Homo sapiens: one gene and its partners. The protein of the gene in region 1 interacts with the protein of each later gene in a biochemical or structural test. Each region holds a gene or a part of one and is shown on either strand. Other genes may lie near its edges. The genes, in order: UBE2J1, UBR5 and PRKN.

Region 1 (3,749 bases):
CCACAATGTAAATAATTCAATCATTTTACCATCTAGCTTAAAAATTAAGCTTTTCTTTCCCTCTTTCTCTTTGGTCTTTTCTTCCTCCCTCCCCACCCCGGGATTCTCTTTTTTTTTTTTTTTTTTTTTTTTTTTTTTGAGATGGAGTCTCGCTCTGTCGCCCACACTGGAGTGCAGTGGCGCGATCTCGGCTCACTGCAACCTCCTCCCCGGGTCAAGCCATCCTCCTGCCTCAGCCTCCCGAGTGGCTGGAACTACAGGAGTGCGCCACCACCATGCCCGGCTGATTTTTGTGTTTTTAGTAGAGACGGGGTTTCACCATGTTGGCCAGGCTGCTCTCCACCTCCTGGGCTCAAGCCTCCCAAAGTGCTGGGATTACAAGCGTGTGCCACCGTGCCAGGTCTTCATCAGATTTTTTTAAGGAGTCAGTGGCTCCTAAAATATTATGACCAGTTCTACACACTTGGTCACCTAAGGACATTTCTTAGCCTGACAGCACTCAGGCTAACAAAGCTCCCTCCAATCAATATCCTCAGGCTTTTCTGGGGTTTTTGCATATTCTGAAACCTTACAAAAAACCCAAAGATTCACAGTGTCAACTCTTTCCACAAGGATGCTAGTCTTGCTAATTCCTACTGAGAAACAGCTTTTTTTGGAAGGAAATTTTAAGCAACAGCAAAAGTTGGTGAAATCATCACTAATATCCTAGAGTTTATCATGCAGAGTTAACTGTGGAGTTTCTTCCCCCTGACAAAATGTATCAAGGTACAGATAGAAAAAATACCATTTAGAGGATCCAATGATTCATTTCAAGCCTGTTTTATTAAGCTGAGAAAGCTAGTTGCTTATCTTTATAATGCACCAGAAAGTAATTAGAGGCTAGGATTGCTGGGACTGCTTGTGTAAATATAAAGCAGGATCATTAAATGCAGGAAAGGAATCGCTACGACTGAATACAGATACATTTCATATTAGCCAGTCTGGCAAAAATCAAGGTTAGCTCTCAAGAACAGGGCTCAACGAGGTGTTTTTTTGTTGTTGTTTTGTTTTGCTTTAGCTCTATAGTTAACTGGTTTAGTTACAGAACATTTCCTTTATGTCTGTAATTGTATTCGCCCAAGTGCTGCAAATAGGATATTTAAACGACCAACTCCTCAAATGTGAGTAAATCAGCCGGCAGTAAATAGAAGTAAATAGAAGTCCGGTGGCAGCGACAGGGAGGGAATAGCGACCAGGTACAGCGAGGGGGTTGATGACTATCGCCCACCGACATCACCTTTACACCTGTTCTCAGGGATGAGTTTCTGACCCAGCTCTACGGGACCAGGCGAAGATGAGAAAAGGGAGAGGCTGGGTGCTGCGGGGCGCGCTGGCCGGCCGGGGGATTGGCAGCGGACGTCCACCCGGCCACCTCGCCCTGCGGCCTGTACTTCCCGGGCAGGCGGCGGTCTCGCGTAGAGCGCGAAACCAGGAGCTGAGCCGCGAGTGGCGCCAGACGCGAGGGGACCGAGGCGGCGACCACCCCGGGGTCCAGGGTCACTCCGCCCTCCTCGCCCAGGGGCCCCAGCCCTGCTCACCCGGACTCTTCAGGTTGTAGCGGGTCTCCATGGTGGGTCGCTGGCTTGGCTCCGGCCTCCCGGGCCGCTGCCACCTCCTCTCCACGCGGCCGCTGCCCGGGTCTCAGCGCGGCTCGGGCGGACGGGGCCTGGCCGAGGAGCCTCGGCAAATGCCGCCCAGTCCAGCCTGGACTGCGGGCGGGGTGGCAAGGCTGAGTGCGGGCGAGGCGCTCGCTTCGCGATGGCGCCGCCTCCTCCACTGCGCCCCCGCCTCCCTGAGTGCCTGGCAGGCACCGGCGCCGGCCGGGGCGGCGCTGAACCGGGCGCCCGGGCTGGAGGTCAGCCTCCTCGGGTAGTCGCAGGCCCAGCCCTGCCGCGGCCGCCCGGCTTGCGTCACCCGCCCTCGTCCGGGATTTGTGAAGTTGCCCTGACGTGGCAGTAGCTTCGTGGCGGTCGGTCACTACCCAGCCGCCGCCCGCCCGGCGAAGCCGGCTTGGGGAGGTGCAGGAGCGAGCGGCGTCCTCGTCCTCTCGTCCCGGCCCTGCCCGCTGTAGGCGAGGTCCGGGACCCCCGGGCCCTCGAGAGCTCGGAGGGGGCGCCGGGCTCCGGCTGCAAAGCTGTCCGCAGCCGGCTGCCCGCGCGCGGTCCCGCAGGGTCTGGGAAAGGCTTTGTTTTTAGATTCAGTTGCTGTTGCGAGGGGCGGGGGTTAAGTGAGGAGGGGGAAAGCCAGTGACAAGGAAATGGAATAGGATTTTTTTTATTTTTTATTTTGTGTGTGTGTGTGACGGTGTCACCGCTCTGTCGCCCAGGCTGGGATGCAGTGGCGCGATCTTGGCTCACTGCAGCCTCTACCTCCCGGGCCCAAGCGATCCTCCCACCTCAGCCTCCAGCGTGGCTGGGACCACAGGTGTGTGCCACCATGCCCGGTTAATTTTTTGTATTTTTGTTAGAGACACGGTTTCACCGTGTTGGCCAGGCTCGTCTCGAACTCCTGGACTCAAGCGATCCGCCCGCCTCGGCCTTCCAAAGTGCTGGGGTTACAGGCGTGAGCCACGGCTCTGGCCAGAGTTGGATATTCATAACAATTTTTTTCTCGGGTAGTGTGTTAGGTGCACGACATGTTTTAGGCATTGCAGGAGTTTTGTTTTTTTTGGTTTGTTTAGATGTAAAAGCTGTCAAAAAAAGGAATTACATTTAATGTGAGGGAAAGCATACAAATATGAAAGGTTAAACTTCAAAGGACACACTTACTGCTTCATTGTCCAATGTGTGGGATCGAGAGAGGACTGAGTTCAAAAGACTTAAGGAGTAGGGACCTTACTAAAGGAAAGGAGGGAGGGATTGGGAAGGTGGGGAGGATAGAAAGGGTTAATCAGGTTGGGCAAGTTTTATTCTGTTATATAAAGACATAAACTCTTAAATTTGATTTGTTTTCTATTGTTAAAGTTAATCTAAATCTGTGAGTTTCTTGATGAAATTGGGAGTAAAAAAGTGAAGGATATCTAAAATTAGATGGTATATTTTAAATCATTCCCTGATGTTGTTTTCTGTATAGTAAACTGATAATCTGACTGACTGAGATATGCAAACAAAACCAAACTCCAATGCTGCTTCATTCATTCATTGTGTTGAATCTTCAGATTAACTGACACTTGACACCCTCTCCTGCCACAGCTCTACAAAAGCCCCTAATTTGTGCAGTAGGCCCTACCACAGCAAGGCCTGCAAAGCAGGTGCTGTATATAATGCGTTCCTATTTGATAGCTGAGTACTAGAAGCCTTTTGCTATTCAGCCTCCAAGGTCCATCAATCTCTGGGTGCAGTTGTCCTCTGGGGCTCTCCTTTAGCCACCACCACCTCCACTGCTCCCTGGGGCTCTTCTCCCATAGGACTGGTTCAGTAGGAATAACAATCTCTCCTTCCTTGGTTAACAACAATAACAACAATTTATTGTGGACATGTGCCCATAACAATTTAATTATGGGCACATATCAAAGCTTAATTACAATCATGCTCCAAGATCAAAGCCAATTCCAAAATTTCTCTCAGCAGAGACATTTACAGAGAAAAGAGAAGTGGCTGGCAGGTGTGGTGGCTCATGCCTGTAATCCCAGCACTTTGGGAGGCCAAGGCGGGCAGGTCACCTGAGGTCAGGAGTTGGAGACCAGCCTGGCCAACATGGCAAAAACCTGT
Region 2 (3,749 bases), on another chromosome or scaffold:
TTAGATCTGGGCTGGGCGCAGTGGCTCACGCCTGTAATCCCAACACTTTGGGAGGCCGAGGTGGGTGGATCACCTGAGGTCAGGAGTTCGAGACCAACCTGGCCAACATGGTGAAACCTTGTCTCTACTAAAAATACAAAAATTACCCAGGCATGGTGGCAGCGCCTGTAATCCCAGCTACTCGGGAGGCTGAGGCAGGAGAATCACTTGAACCCAGGAGGCGGAGGTGGCAGTGAGCCAAGATCGTGCCATTGCACTCCAGCCTGGGCGACAGAGCAAAGACTCCGTCTCAAAAAAAAAAAATTTTTTTTAGATCTGTTTGGCTTGAAATCTAGCAGTGTCTACTGGTCTACCTTCCTTCCTCAGGGCTCCCAGGGACATCTAATAGTGACCTTGAAATCACTTTTTAGTCTAAACTAATCTGGGCCAATGGTTGAGCTGGTAACCTACAAAAGTGTTCCATTATCTGCCTTGAGGGTACCAGGTCTGTCCTGATTTGTAAGTATTTTTTCATAAATTTTGCTCAGAAGAACTTCCTAAGCAAAACTGTGTGTGTGTGTGTGTAATTCATTAACAGACCACCTCTGTAGAAGGAATGTCATGTTCTCAGTTTTTGCCTTCGAAGAGGTACTTTATTTTTTAAAGGAGGTCATAGAAACCTTTGAGAAGAAAGTCATGAATTGGTTCCTTAGGGAAAAAAAAACAGACTTATTTGATTAAAAAAAATTTTTTTTTGAGATGGAGTCTCGTTCTGTTGCCCGGGCTGGAGTGCAGTGGCATGATCTCAGCTCACTGCAACTTGCCAGGTTCAAGCAAGTCTTCTGCCTCAGCTTCCTGAGTAGTGGGGTTTACAGGCGCGCACAGCCATGCCTGGCTAATTTTTGCATTTTTAGTAGAGATGGGGTTTCACCAAGTTGGCTAGGCTGGTCTCGAACTCCCAACCTCAGGTGATCCGACATCCTCGGCCTTCCAAAGTGCTGGGATTACAGGCGTGAGCCACTGTGCGCCGTGGCCAAAACTCTGAAAGTGTCTTATAGTAGAAACTCGGTATAAAAGATCCTATCTCGGCCAGGCGTGGTGGCTCAGGCCTGTAATCCCAGCACTTTGGGAGGCCGAGGCGGGTGGATCACCTGAGGTCAGGAGTTCGAGACCAGCCTGGCCAACATGGTGAAACCACATCTCTACTAAAAAAGAAATACAAAATTAGCCGGACGTGGTGACACATGCCTGTAATCCCAGCTACTCCATAGACTGAGACAGGAAAATCGCTTGAACCCGGGAGGCGGAGGTTGAGGTGAGCCGAGACCGCGCCATTGCACTCCAGCCTGGGCAACAAGAGCGAAACTCCGTCTCGGGGAAAAAAAAAAAAAAAATAATAATTTTCCGTTCTGATTCCACTGATCATAAATTGAACTCCTTTGTAGAACAGGTTTATCATCTTTCATTTAAAAGTAATAAAAAATCACGAATCATTTATATCAGGAAATTAGTGGAAATTTCCACATTTTGTCTTTGGGCATGTGATGGTGGTGAGGAAACTGGGGAGACCGAGGTAATAGAAGTTGCTGCAAAGCCAACTCCAGGATCCTACTATCTCCTTCTGGAAAGGCCCTTACATAATTTCCTTACTTTTCCAATAAAAGGCTGTATATGTCTTGCCCCTTAACTGATTTTACCAACTTCACCATAAATACAACTGCGGATGAAGGATGAGAAGCAACAAGAAACCCCTAAGGATCCGCCAAATAATTAGGGCTGCCCCAGGGGAATCCGAGCGAAAGAACACAAGAGCCCCTCTTCCTCCTCGCCTCCTCTGGGACACACACTTACCCTCCCTCCCGGCAGGTTAGCCCGCAGCCTCCTCCTTCCCTAACACGTGCTCTCCGGAACACTCACTCTGGAGACATCCCACCCCCGGCGGGGCTGGGCTCGGGAGCCGAACGGACCAATCGGCACGCGCCTTACAGCGTCGTGGCCCGACAACGTTGAGCAGCCCAATCGAGGGGGCCTTGCCGCCCGTTTCCCGGAGCCCCGCCTCTCGCCGCCGCGCCCCCGCCCGCCGGTCTCCTCCCTCCTCCTCCTCCCGTTTGCCCCTCCCCCGCCGCTCCGGAGCGGAGCCTGCGAGACGGAGAAACTGGGGCAGAAGTGAAGATGGCGGCGGCAGCTTCTCGCTAGTGACGCGCGGTGCGGGCTCATCTCCTTCCCCTCCTTCCTCACCTCCCCTAGTCCGGACCCCGTCCGCCGCCGGGACCAGACCGTCCCCGTAGCCCGCAGCCAGCAGCCGCCCCTCTCCTCCCCCGGCCGCCCCTCTCCCAACGCCCGTCTGCCGCTGGCCGGCGGCGCGCCCCTGGTCCCGGCCGCCTGCCTCGCACTCCGCGCTGTCGCCGGGGGAGCGGGTGGCGTGTGGATTCGCCCTCCTGCCCGCCCCTCCGGGCCGCGGACACACGCCCGGCAGGGAGGCGGCGGCGGCCCCTGCGTATTTGCTTCCCTCCATTTGGGGACTGGGAGGCGGCGGCGGCTGTGGGTTTTGGGGAGGGGTAGAGGGCTGGGGGGCGGGCGAGAGCGGGAGGGGGCCGCCCTCGAGTGGAGGACGAGAAGGAAAGCACCATGACGTCCATCCATTTCGTGGTTCACCCGCTGCCGGGCACCGAGGACCAGCTCAATGACAGGTAATAGGGCTGGCGGGTCGGCGGGCGCGGGGGGAGGGGCGCCCTTCCCTCCCTCCCCTCCCCCACGGGCCGTGCCGGGCGGGTGCGGGTGTTTACGCGCCGGCCGGCCAGCTGGGGTGGGGTGCGGGGGTCCTTACTGCCTCCTGCTAGGCTCCTTCCGGGGCAAACTTCTCATCCCGGGGGCAGGGGGCCGCGGGGGGAGCGCGGTGTAGACGGGACTCGCGGTGTAGACTGGAGAGCGCTCTGTAAACCCCCTTCCCCCTCCCGCAAGGAGCGGCGTTGAACTCGGCGGAGATGGGGGGGTGGTTTCTGGCTCCCGGGGGGCAGGCGGTAATTACTGCCCGGCCAAGGCCCGAGGAATCCATATTAGTCAAAGTTGAATTGAGACAGACAATGCGGATGGGGGATGGTGGAGGTAAAAAGAGAGGGAAGAGGAGAAGCGGGGCCAGGGGCCCCGGGGTGGGCTGGGCTGGGCTTGTCCCGGGCCCCCGGCAGCTGTGTCCGGTGGGGTGGTCTGGACCTGGGGATCCCGGGGTCGGGTTGGGGAGAGAAGCCGATTCCCGGCAGATTGCTGGGAGCGGGCGGGGGGTGGGGGGAAGGTGATAGTTGGGGGAGGGAGTGAGGGAGGAAGCGCCATGATTATTGTTATTATTATTAAATTTGAGCCCCTGCAGTGAGGTTTGCCTGCCCCGGGAGGGGATGGATTCAAGCGGGGGTGGGGAAGTGCATTGGATTCCCTTTACTCTCCTCCTGAAATGGTGCTGGCAGCTCCTGCTACTAGCCCCTGTGGTGCGAGCTTTTTTGTTTCCTTTTCTATTCTAATGATAGTGTTTTCCTGAGTTGTAATTTGACAGCTGAAAACCGTGCGTAGAGTGTCAAAGGAAAACTCTTACGTTTGCAGTTCGCAATGCTGCTTTTCTTAACACGCTGTAAATTTCTGGGTTGGGTTTGCTATGGGCGGAGGATGAATTATGATTTTATTTTATGTTTTGTCTTTTATAGGCTGTTTTGGTTTGGATTTCTCCTTTTCTTCCGCCACCGTTCCTTGCCAGTTTAGGATATTGAATTGCAGTGCCGCAT
Region 3 (3,749 bases), about 73 Mb from region 1:
GAATTGTGACCTGGATCAGCAGAGCATTGTTCACATTGTGCAGAGACCGTGGAGAAAAGGTCAAGAAATGAATGCAACTGGAGGCGACGACCCCAGAAACGCGGCGGGAGGCTGTGAGCGGGAGCCCCAGAGCTTGACTCGGGTGGACCTCAGCAGCTCAGTCCTCCCAGGAGACTCTGTGGGGCTGGCTGTCATTCTGCACACTGACAGCAGGAAGGACTCACCACCAGCTGGAAGTCCAGGTAATTGGAATGCTCTAAGATTATTAAAGCATTTTGTTTGTTTGTTTAGTGCAGTCTGCATGGAGCATGGCCTCACCGGGTGCATATTTAGTTTATGATACGTTTTGGATTGGAGTCTCTAATTCACTACAAGGAGACATCACTGTAGGTGGAGTACTTTGATGTAACATTTGAGAATGCATTTATTGTAAGTACTATGAAACAGGTTTTCATATTGAGATTAAATATAAGAGATATGTTTCTAGTGATGTAGAAAAATTCTAAAAAGCAGAAAGAACTCTAAAGCTAATCGAGCCATTTGTAGTTTCTAAAGCCAGATATGCCAATGGCAATGACATCCTTAGTGTGAAAGGACTCTTCCTTCTCTCTATGCTACCACCCATTTCAAAATGCTTTTCTTTGGCAAAGATTGTTATTGTTTAGTTATTTTAAAAAAATTAATATGTGCCTCTTAGTCTTTTATTCTCTAATCTAAATAGTCAAAGGTGTAATAGAATTAATTTTTACTGTGTTTGACAGAAGACACAAAATAATCACAATGACTTTACAGGGTAGAAGTTGATTTTCCTCCCACATACAATAGATCCTGGCAGTTGTGGGCTGGTATGGCCTTCACAGTGTCAGAAAGTTCTGGGGCCTGCAAGATGGAAGCCTAACATAATAAGAAATGCCTCCTACTAAACTTACTAAATAAAATTTAAGGAACTTAAAAATTTTCGATGATCTTGCAAAAAATAAAAAAAGATAATTTCCAAGGACAAGTGAAAATGTAGAAACAACATCTTTAAATACAGGAGTAGATAAGCCCAGAAAGTAAGGCATTAACTGATGCTCTGGTGATCTTGAGATGATTGTGGGAGGGAAAGAGGCTCTGCTTCATGTGAGCTGGGCACCTCAGGTCTGGAAAGAAAAATTGAGAAATGGAAATAAATGTCAAAAATGGGGAAAAATGAGATAAATCTAAACCCCTGCAATACTCTTGTGACCAGAATAATATATTAATATAAATATCGAACCCAAGCCCATAACAATTCTGACGTTTCAACCAGAGTATGTATAAGATCATTCTGACACTGACACCTCTAGAGAATACTCATGCTCCAACATTATAAACCAAACAATGGAAAATTCCACCTTGAGTGTGTATGAGACCAGAATATGCCACCCCAAAATATGCCACTTTAGCATAAGTATTATTTTAAGCTGATTATTTTGAGAAACAGTAGACACAGGAAAAGCTCTAAAAACAGAGTAGAAGTGACCCTTTTGTAAGGGAAATTTATATCTACCAAGGAAGTCTCCATTTGTAAGGGTGTCTCCCTCTCCTTACTAGGATGAGGAGGACAGAGTCTCTGGAGACTCTGATCCTTGAGAAGGCACCAACTGAATAATCTGCCTAACAAACCTTACTCTTGTCTTCTCCTCTCCCTTTCTTCCTTTGCCATTGAAGATGGTATTCAAGCCTGAATTTTAGGCACCTCTTTGAGATTTATGCATTTTTTCTGGGTGTCTCACATGTACAGTTGTCCCTCCCCATCAACAGGCAATACGTTTCAAATCCCCCAGTGTACGCCTGAAACCAAAAATGGTACCAAACCCTATATTTACTATGTTTGTTCCTGTACAACTGTATAACAGATTGGATTTATTATGTTAGGAGACCTATCTACTAGTTCTTTAATTTGATTTCCCAAAATAAAATTCTTACTAAAAATAAAAAAATCACATTGTTTAGAGCAAAATTAAACCTTTACTTATTATCTGAATATTAAAAACAATTTGAGCACAAGAATCCTGTTGTGTACATATTCATGTTCTTTAATACATTTCCTAGTGCATCTGGCTCTACTCTCTTATCAACCATATTCATCTGAAAATTTTAGTCTTCTTATTTTGTTTTATCATAAAATTGCCCTTGGTCTTCTCCAGAATTTTCTTTTATGAGAATGAACTTAGAATTATTGACACTTTCAACTGACTCTCTCTCTCTCTCTAGACCATAATATTTTAAGAAAATATAGTATTCTCTCTATATAGGGTCTGAAGTACCAGTAGGCACTGAGAAAATTCTGCTAAATGTCTAATATTCTCTTTATATTTTTAAATTGAAATGTGTGATTATTTCAACCCAAACAATAGAGAATAAATTCTAGTAAATTTATGGAATGTGGTAAATGACAGCAGCCTTCAGAGTACTGTATGATCTATGATGATGCGCTGTTTCACCTTGACTTTCCACTCATGTCTGAGTCACATCTAACCTCTGATCACCCTGTTTCTCATTTACCCCTCTGTCTTGTGGCCTGCCAGCCTTGTGCTTTTGGCAGGCTAGGGACTGGCTCAGGCAACTCTACATGGTGCAGTTGGGGGCTGCAGGGTTGCCATCCTAACACTTCTCCCTGCACCACTACACACTGGGGGCAACTTCCTGGCACCCTACATGCTGCTACTAAAAGGCCTCTGTAAAGATATGTTGCATCTGTAAAGATTGGGAAAAGAGAGATGGTGCATCCCAGGTCAACTTTCAGATTTAACTCTGTGTTAAACTAACAGCTAAACTACAAGTAATCCTCTCCTGCTCATTAGAACTGGAGGGAATCCTTTTCAGAACTCTTAGGACTCTCCCTTATTACTTGCTATTTTGTACTCCAGTTCTGACTTCACCTTTTAATCTCTTTGAGGATGGAGTTTTTGTCCAATTAACTGTAGTTTTCCCCAAAATCTCTTAGAAGAGTGGTGATACATGTTTACTAAATTGCTTCAAATTGTAAACATAGTCAGTCATTCAACAGAACTCCTGTGCATTTAGCTTTTAGAGCGAATGCTTTATTTAAAATTATACAGAGAAATTGAGATTTCATCTCTTCAAATGTCTTGGTTCATTCTTGGTTTGAGTTAAGACTGAATGGAATGATTTGAAATGACTATATGCAAACAGTATGCCTATATGATTATTTTTCTTCACTAAAAATGATAGCGTAAAGTTACTAGAGCAGAGATTCACAGACTCTCATGTGCAGAATTATCTTGCATGTTTTTCCATGTTTCTTTGATGGCCAGAATGGCGAGAAAAAAAATCTTCTTTCATTCTTTTTCTGTGACCAGAAATTTTGATGTATTTGTCTGGGGGTAGAGGCCCCAAAATGTTGGTACTGACCATACTCTGAGAAACTCTGCCCTATGGCTAAGGTTTTCCAGCCTTACAATTATGGATCCTACCTGTTGTTCTCACGGAACAATCGGACGCTGGGTGGGAGAACAGAGGCAGGTCGGTGAGAGGTGAACACACCAAGCCAATCACAGCAGCCTGAGACCATTCCTCTTTACGTACTTCACATATTAAACACATAAAACATCTATCATTTGAAAAGATGAAAAAAATCCTTGGTTATACAATGTTTGAAAACCTGTGCCTCAGAAAAAGAGATTAAAAGAAATCCCAATTTTCTGTGCTTCCAGAGTCTTCAATTTTAACTTCGAAGAATATAAGTGCTGGCTGGACGTGGG

Evidence for each region.
Region 2: the proteins of UBE2J1 (region 1) and UBR5 form a complex in vitro, tested with the Homo sapiens proteins (one study listed by BioGRID).
Region 3: the proteins of UBE2J1 (region 1) and PRKN form a complex in vitro, tested with the Homo sapiens proteins (4 studies listed by BioGRID).

Annotation. Positions count from the first base shown.
Region 1 is NC_000006.12:89,350,962-89,354,710, forward strand, and holds the start of UBE2J1 (ubiquitin-conjugating enzyme E2 J1), read right to left. Parts: upstream 1,762-3,749; 5' UTR 1,609-1,761; coding exon 1,578-1,608; intron 1-1,577. UniProt on the Homo sapiens protein: Catalyzes the covalent attachment of ubiquitin to other proteins. Functions in the selective degradation of misfolded membrane proteins from the endoplasmic reticulum (ERAD) and is essential for cells to recover from ER stress.
Region 2 is NC_000008.11:102,411,093-102,414,841, reverse strand, and holds the start of UBR5 (E3 ubiquitin-protein ligase UBR5), read left to right. Parts: upstream 1-2,141; 5' UTR 2,142-2,607; coding exon 2,608-2,669; intron 2,670-3,749. UniProt on the Homo sapiens protein: E3 ubiquitin-protein ligase involved in different protein quality control pathways in the cytoplasm and nucleus. Mainly acts as a ubiquitin chain elongator that extends pre-ubiquitinated substrates.
Region 3 is NC_000006.12:162,259,018-162,262,766, reverse strand, and holds part of PRKN (E3 ubiquitin-protein ligase parkin), read left to right. Parts: intron 1-1; coding exon 2-242; intron 243-3,749. UniProt on the Homo sapiens protein: Functions within a multiprotein E3 ubiquitin ligase complex, catalyzing the covalent attachment of ubiquitin moieties onto substrate proteins. Substrates include SYT11 and VDAC1.